Linked DNA regions of Homo sapiens. The protein of the gene in region 1 interacts with the protein of each later gene in a pairwise test. Each region holds a gene or a part of one and is shown on either strand. Other genes may lie near its edges. The genes, in order: FGR and NR1I2.

Region 1 (3,811 bases):
ACATGGACCCACATAGAGCTCTCCTCTATAGGAGAACATAGACTTATACAATCTCTCATGTTCACACACAGATACAATATTGCCACTTCCAATAATACCCACGTATATATTGCCACAACATATCTATATCAGATGGAGGGGATCCCTGAATTCTGCATGCCCAGTATGGCTGGAAGGGAGAGACTATCAGCATCTGAGAAGGAAGCTCTGTGGGCTCAGGAAGAGCCCTGGCAGGACTGACCGTGTCGTCAGCAGGCAGAGGTAGGCAGCTCTTGGGTCTTATCACTTCCAAACTTGATGCAGACCAAAGCCCTGGCCAGGCCTGGCTCTCTGGGGACCAGTATGCTGAGGCGTCAGGGGATGTAGGGCACAGGGTATGACATCTGCATGGCCCAAGGCAGGGAGGGGCCACACTGCATGTAGCCATGTTCATGCTGTTTTGTCAGAGGAAAGAAAGAGATGGGGAAAGACAGAAAAAGGAGAGGCAGAAAGAAAGAGAGAGAGAGGCAGAGTTTGAGAGATACAGGGAGATAAAGAGAAAGAGCCAGAGAGACAGAAAGACAGAGAGATAGAAGGAAGAGACAGAGACAGAGAAACACAGCGTGGTATGCTGGTAAACTGACTCTCAAAAAAAGAAAAGAAAAGAAAAGAAAAAGCCCTGATTTGTCACATTTTCTGATTTCCATGGTGTAAATATTCCCACAATGGCTGATTTAAAGCTACCAAAGTGACTTCCTGAAAGCTGGGGTGGAAGAGACACACAGAATGAACTCCCCTGAGCCAGTAAGTAGCTGGCTCCAGCACACACTGCCAGAAAGAAACAGAGACAAAGAGACAGAGGCAGAAATGAGAATTAAGGAGAAAGAGTAATCAAGAGACAGAAAGAGATAGAAACAGAGAGAGGCAGAGATGAAGAGAAAGAGAGAGAGAGAGCTAAAGAGACAAGGAGGGAAAAAGACGGAGGGAGAGCAGATTGGGTTCACTCTGCTCAGACATCTGCATGAAAATAGCCCTAGGACTCTTCATCCTCCTCTTGCTCTGATCTCTATGTGCCACCAATTCTTTGGAGAGTAATTTGACTTCCTAGAAATCCAGGTGGCAGTAAAAATGAGCTAATTTATTAAACAGTTACACAGTGACTAGCATCTTGCCAAGTAACTCCCAGTCATGGTCTTATTTGGTGAACCTATGAGGTGGGTTTATGACTACCCTTATTTTACAGATGAAGAAACTGAGGCACAGAGATGTTAAGTAACTTGCCCAAGATTACATTGTGAGTAAAGGATGCTAAAATGCAATGCTGATCAACTTGTTGCCAAAAACCACTGTAACCACTAGTCCATTCTGTAATCCTAGTAGAAGCAATAATGCAAGCTTGTCCATCCCATGGTCCATGGGCCATATGCAGCCCAGGACAGCTTTGAATGTGGCCCAACACATATTAGTAAACTTTCTGAAAACATTATGAGATTTTTTTTGTGATTTTTTTTGAGACGGGGTCTCACTCTGTTGCCCAGGCTGGAGTAAAGTGGCACAATCTTGGCTCACTGCAACCTCCGCCTCCTGGGTTCAAGTGATTCTTCTGCCTCAGCCTCCTGAGTAGCTGGGACTACAGGCGCGCTGCCAACACGCCTGGCTAATTTTTTGTATTTTGAGTAGAGACGGGGTTTCACCGTGTTAGCCCGGATGGTCTCGATCTCCTGACCTCGTGATCTGCCCGCCTCGGCCTCCCAAAGTGCTGGGATTACAGGCATGAGCCACTGCACCCGGCCTTTTTTGCAATTTTTTAAAGCTCATCAGCTATCATTAGTGTTAGTGTATTTTATGTGTGGCTCAAGACAATTTTTCTTCTTCCAATGCGGCCCAGGGAAGCCAAAAGATTGGACACCCCTGCAATAACGTGTGTCTCTTAAGGAGCACCTAGTGTTCTCAGCCCTGTGCCTCATGCTCTAAATCCTTGATACAGCAGGCAGGGCGCAGGTGGGGGGAGGGAGGGGCGCAGGAGAGAGAGAGAGAGAGCCATATCTGCCCAGATTTTCTCAGGCAGTCGCTGAATCTGAAGAAGCCAGGTCTCTCTTTTCTCAGCACTGAACTTCGCTGCCTGCTAATACCAGAAAGGGGGCAGCTCAGAGAGTAGCCACAGCATCATTCTGGGCACTTGGTTCTGTTTATAAATATGTCTCTTGAACATCTGGTTTACAGGAGTCGCCTCCGAGATCCCCATCAGGGTCAAAATCAGGTTACAAGTATCAAACTGAGGTCCAACCCTGGACCGCAGTGCTCCTCACTTCAACATCTGCCCTGTGGCCCTCCCCAGCTCCATTCTTCAGTAGCTCTATGACCTTGGATCTTTGACATAAGCCTCTGAGCCTTAGTTGTTGCATCTGCACCTTCTGAGTAGTTGTTGTGAGGGCTTCATGACATGTGGCTCTTGCCCGATGTGCAGTGGCCAAGTGTGACCAATAACCAAAACCAGAATGGCCCCCAGGGACCATTTACCACTCCACCTTCTCTTTTGCATAGGGGGAAGTTACTTTCCCAGGATCACACAGCCAGACAAGGGATTCAAAGTCAGGACTATTAATTCAAGTCCAGAGTTCTGTTCCCTCCCCCACTGCTGTGTTCTCCAAAGCCTGAGCAGGAGATCATGCTGTTCCTAACTAGTGAATGTCATACTTCCGGTCGAACACACCACCCCTGTCATATGGCAGCTGGTCACCCAGCAGGGAGGGACCCTGCCTCCCACTCACCCCTACTGCTGGACATAGGAACCCCAGGTCCACCCATCCTTTTTCGAGGCCCACACTTCCCAAAGCTATGCCAGTTCTTTGATGTAGACACAGGATGTCCTGCCCCCGCAACCCTCACCAAGTATCTGTGGGATCTAGAGGCAGATTTAGGCTCAAATTCTAGCCTGCCTGACAACTAGCTTAAGGCATTGGGCAAGTCAGTTCATCTCCCTGAGCGGCAGCATCTTTGCCTATAAAATAAGAATACAAATGTCCACCTCCTGGGGTTGCTTCTCAGCATCAAATGGGGTCACATCACTGAAAGCATCAGACATACAGTAAGTGCCCAGTGAACTTTCACTTCCCTCCTTTCCCTTGAGGAAGGTCCTCCGTGGCAGTGACGGTGTGGGACCAGAGGGTACAGAACTGGGCAGGGCTGAGAAGAAAGAGAAGTTCCCAGGGTGAGGTGAGAGGGCTGAGCTGGCCCAGCCGCCTGGGGGATTTCATCAAAAGGGAACCGGGACTTTGGGCAGGGGCAGGAAACCACCATCCTGCAAGAGTTCCGGCTTCTCCTCCAGGCTCTGGGCTGGCCGGGGGCAGGCCAGGGCTGGAGGGTCAGGGAGCAAGGCTGAGGTCTGCAGGTGACTCCCATCCCACTGTGCCGCATCTCTCACTAGGCCCTATCCCTCAGACCGGGCGGGCTTCCATCCCTCACCCTCAGTCCTCTCACCGAGACCCTCCACCTGGCTGAATGCCAGTGCCTTTGCTGAGGCCCCCACTGCTCATTAACTCCCTTTCTTTCTTTCTTTGTTCTTCTTCTTCTTCTTCTTCTTTTTTTTTTTTTTGAAACAGTGTCTCATTCTGTCGCCAAGGCTGGAATGCGATGGTTCGATCTCGGCTCACTGCAACCTCTGCCTCCCGGGTTCAAGCAATTCTCCTGCCTCAGCCTCCTGAGTAGCTGGGATTACAGGCGTCTGCCACCATGCCCAGCTAAATTTTTGTATTTTTAGTAGAGATGGGGTTTAGTCATGTTGGCCAGGCTGTTCTTGAACTTCTGACCTCAGGTGATCCACCCACCTCGG
Region 2 (3,811 bases), on another chromosome or scaffold:
CAGTGTAATGGAGGGCCAGGGTCAGAGACAGATTAATTCCTTATTTACTCTTACAGGTGAAACTGTCAGATGTCACCTGTCATGATGTTGGAAACAGAAATTTATGTGTTAGAATTTTACTAAAGTTTCGATTTTGGCATTAGAAAAAGCATCGTCATCTGTGGTGGTGTCTGCCCTTGTCAGTCAGTGCCTAGAGAGAATTTTGGGGATGGTAGTAACAGGACAATCCCCCATTTCTACTGAACATCCTCAGTGTCTGTTCCAAGTAGAATTCAAGTTATGCTCTCAAGGTGGAAGTTGCCTGGGGAGGACATCCTTGAGTACAGCTCAATTTTTTTTCTTTCTTTTAGAGATGAGGTCTCACTTTATCACCCAGGCTAGAGTGCTCTGGCATGATTCTAGCTCACTGCAGCCTCAAACCCTCAGGCTCAAGAGATCCTCCCCGCTCAGCTTCCCAAGTAGCTGGGACTATAGGCTCACACCATCGATCTTGGCTGTTTTTTTTTATTTTTTGTAAAGATGAGATCTCACTTTGTTGCCCAGGCTGGTCTCAGATTCCTGGGCTCAAGCGATCCTCTTGCCTCAGCCTCCCAAAGCCCCGGGATTACAGGCATCAGCCACCATGCTTAGCTACAGCTCTATTAATAGGCACAAGTTCTTCAATATTCACTGAGACCCCAGCTCTGCTGGGACCACAGGCCATTTTTCTTCCCATGTTGTGATCTTGCCCACCATGCCTCCACTTTTTCCCCATCTGCCTGGCTACTTAGTTGAAAACTCTTTCTGCTCAGCCTTTCTAGCTCCCTGTGGGAGCTTGGGCCACACCCCACCTGAAAGACTATCCTCCCTCAATGTCCCCAGTCCCAGAAATCATCTTGAACAAGTAATCTGTCCATGAGCTGCTCCCCATTCAGACCTCTGGCCAGGTTGTGGCCTCCTAACCTCAGTCCACTCAGCTGTGGCCTCCATGATCCGACCCAGACAGCCTGCTCTCTTTTCTTCTCATTTCTTCCTCCCTCTTACCCTTATCTTTCCCATGCTCCTGTTCACATGTTCTACTCCAGGGCTCTATTTTTGTGTACAAAATGTCATGATTACAGCTCTCTTTATAACAATTCCAACCCCCATTCCCCGCTTTTTTTCCCCATGAGAGGTCAGCTCCCGAGTTCACAGGCCCAAATGTGAGTGATGCATAGAAGGGACAGAGTGTTTCCTCTGAGGCCTCTACACATCCCTGTCCAGTCTTTTCATTCTCTGTGGTTTTCTCATTTCTAGTCCAAGAGGCCCAGAAGCAAACCTGGAGGTGAGACCCAAAGAAAGCTGGAACCATGCTGACTTTGTACACTGTGAGGACACAGAGTCTGTTCCTGGAAAGCCCAGTGTCAACGCAGATGAGGAAGTCGGAGGTCCCCAAATCTGCCGTGTATGTGGGGACAAGGCCACTGGCTATCACTTCAATGTCATGACATGTGAAGGATGCAAGGGCTTTTTCAGGTAGAGTTACCCATCAGCCTTCACCCACGTGCCACCACTGACCCACTGGGTAACGTCTCAGGGCCTCAGCTTGACCTGTCCCCCAGGTTCAGAGTGTGGGCTGGTGGCCCACCCAAAGGCCTTGTAATTAGTCTCAAGGGAGCCATTTATATCCCAGAGGAATCCTTCATCTTCAGTCTTCCTGTTCTACCCAGGAAAGGTCTCCTTCCATTAAGATATCCCTTGGTTTCTCCATGTGCTCTTGAATAAAATGGAAAATGACTCAGTGAAAGATAAGGAATTTGAAAATCCCAAATCCAAGTGTTCACATCCGCCTTCTGGGGTGGTTGTTACATAAAGAATGGCATAAAATAAATGCTTAGACCATGGGAAGAGAAACAGACCGAAGGGAGGGGAAGGGCGGGGAGGGGAGAAAGCCATGTGTGAGGAAGCACTCCAGGTGCACCCTCCGGAGGGCACAGGGTATGCAAGGAGCAGCTCCCATCTCGGGAGCCACATGTGGGACCCTCATGCATTCCCAAGACAGCCAGCCTGACAGCCCTTTGCAGAGTTCTTCGTGGTGGCTGGGCATTCAAATGGAAAAGGGCAGGTTCCAGGGAGAAATGAACATTCGTGTTGCATGAGTTATAACAGGGGTGAGACACATCAGCAGTGTCAGACTGGGTTCAGCTACAAGTCACAGGACACTTGTCGCCAATTGGTTTGGCAATAAGGAAAATGTGTTACCTCTCCTAACAGGAAGTCTGAAGGCCTCCAGGTTAGTGAGTTCAGCAGCTCATTTCTTTCCATTTTTCTCTTCAGCCATCCCACCTGAGAGCTCTGATTGCAGTCTGGCTCCCCTTGTGGGGGCACAGTGCTGGGGCCCCAGGCAGGAATCATTATGTTCAGCAGAAGCGCACAAAGGCCCATCTTTGAGAGTAAGGAAATCTTTCCCAGGAGTCCCCTCACATTGGCTAGAGCCGGGCCCAGCCTATGCCTGAACTAGTCACTAGCAAAGAGCAGCAGGTATGTCCCTGAGCTGGGCACACGCCACTTGACTGTGTGGAAGAGGGTGGATGTCTGCACCAGCTCCAGATGCTGCTGGCACAGAAGAGGCTGCCCAAGCAGTGTTCGTGCATCCTGCCTCAGCATGCAGGAATCTTCTGCTCTCCCTTCCTCATTTGGGTACTATTCCTGGGACTCTCAGAAAAAGGCAACATGTTGTAGTGGGCAAAAGCTAAATCCAGTATCAGGCAGACCTGGATTCAAATTTCAGCTTGTCATGTACCTGGAGGACAGCTGGGGATCCATCGTCTCCAAGCCTCAGTCTCCCTCATCTGTGCTAGGCAGATGAGATTATGAGTTTCACAGGGTTTTAGAACTAAATTTACAAAACTGCAAAATACCTAGCCTAGCATCTGATACATAGCATACCTTTAAATAATGTGAGCCCCGGTTTCATCTTTTACCCATTCTCAGTGGACTTTGATGTAGCATCAGAGTTTTCTTACCCAGGCCAGTTGGGAAGGCAAAAGGCAGGGATGGCATCTGTGAAGAACATGCCCCTGGGCTGGTCACTGGTCCGAGGCCCGAGGCCTCCAAGCTCAAACCTGCCAGGTCACTGCGGGCTTGGCTCAGCTTCCCAGGCCTGCCCTCGGGGACCTCTGCAGCCCTACCTGGCTGTTCCATGCTCCTGGGCCAGCCTTCCCTCAGTTTCCACTCTGGACCAGAATCAGAGGCCAGAGCCAAGGGAGAGATTGTTTCTTTCCATCCAGCTGTGGAGATGGGGAAAGTAAAGGTAGGACTGCACTGACCGTGTCTTTTGTGGGACAGGCAGGACTTCCGGGCTGGGAGGAGGAGATCTTGTACCAGAGTCTCCAAAAGGCATCTGCCCCATTGCCTCTCTGCGCACCGCAGAGAGGGGTGTGCGGGCCCGTGGGTCCCGCCTGCACGCTCTGCTGTTCCAGGCGCTCGACCTCTTTGCCCCCTAGGTCAACGAGGGGAATCCACTCTGCCATGGGGAAGTCGCTGCCCCGTAGGGTATAAGAACTTCCCCATAGTTCACCCCTTCCTCCCTGGCCGCCCAGTCTGGAAGGGGAGCTGGAGAAGGCGGCGGGGGGTGGGGGGAAGGCGGGGGGGAAGGCGGGGGGGTGGGGCGGGCTTCTCTGGTTTCTTACCCTCCTGGGGTCAGGTTTCCTCAGCTCCCTCCCTTAAGGAGGGGAAATCGAGGAAGAGGCCCATCTCCATGGAAACTTTCTGGTAACAAGGCTGTGAAAGAGAAGGGGACAGGTGTTTCAGGAAGAAGGGAAGGCGCTGAGGATGGGCCTGGAGAGGAAGT

What was found.
Region 2: the proteins of FGR (region 1) and NR1I2 interact in a two-hybrid assay, tested with the Homo sapiens proteins (one large-scale study listed by BioGRID and IntAct).

What each region holds. Positions count from the first base shown.
Region 1 is NC_000001.11:27,628,581-27,632,391, forward strand, and holds part of FGR (tyrosine-protein kinase Fgr), read right to left. Parts: intron 1-3,811. UniProt on the Homo sapiens protein: Non-receptor tyrosine-protein kinase that transmits signals from cell surface receptors devoid of kinase activity and contributes to the regulation of immune responses, including neutrophil, monocyte, macrophage and mast cell functions, cytoskeleton remodeling in response to extracellular stimuli, phagocytosis, cell adhesion and migration.
Region 2 is NC_000003.12:119,805,954-119,809,764, forward strand, and holds part of NR1I2 (nuclear receptor subfamily 1 group I member 2), read left to right. Parts: intron 1-1,275; coding exon of another isoform or gene 1,276-1,297; coding exon 1,298-1,494; intron 1,495-3,811. UniProt on the Homo sapiens protein: Nuclear receptor that binds and is activated by variety of endogenous and xenobiotic compounds.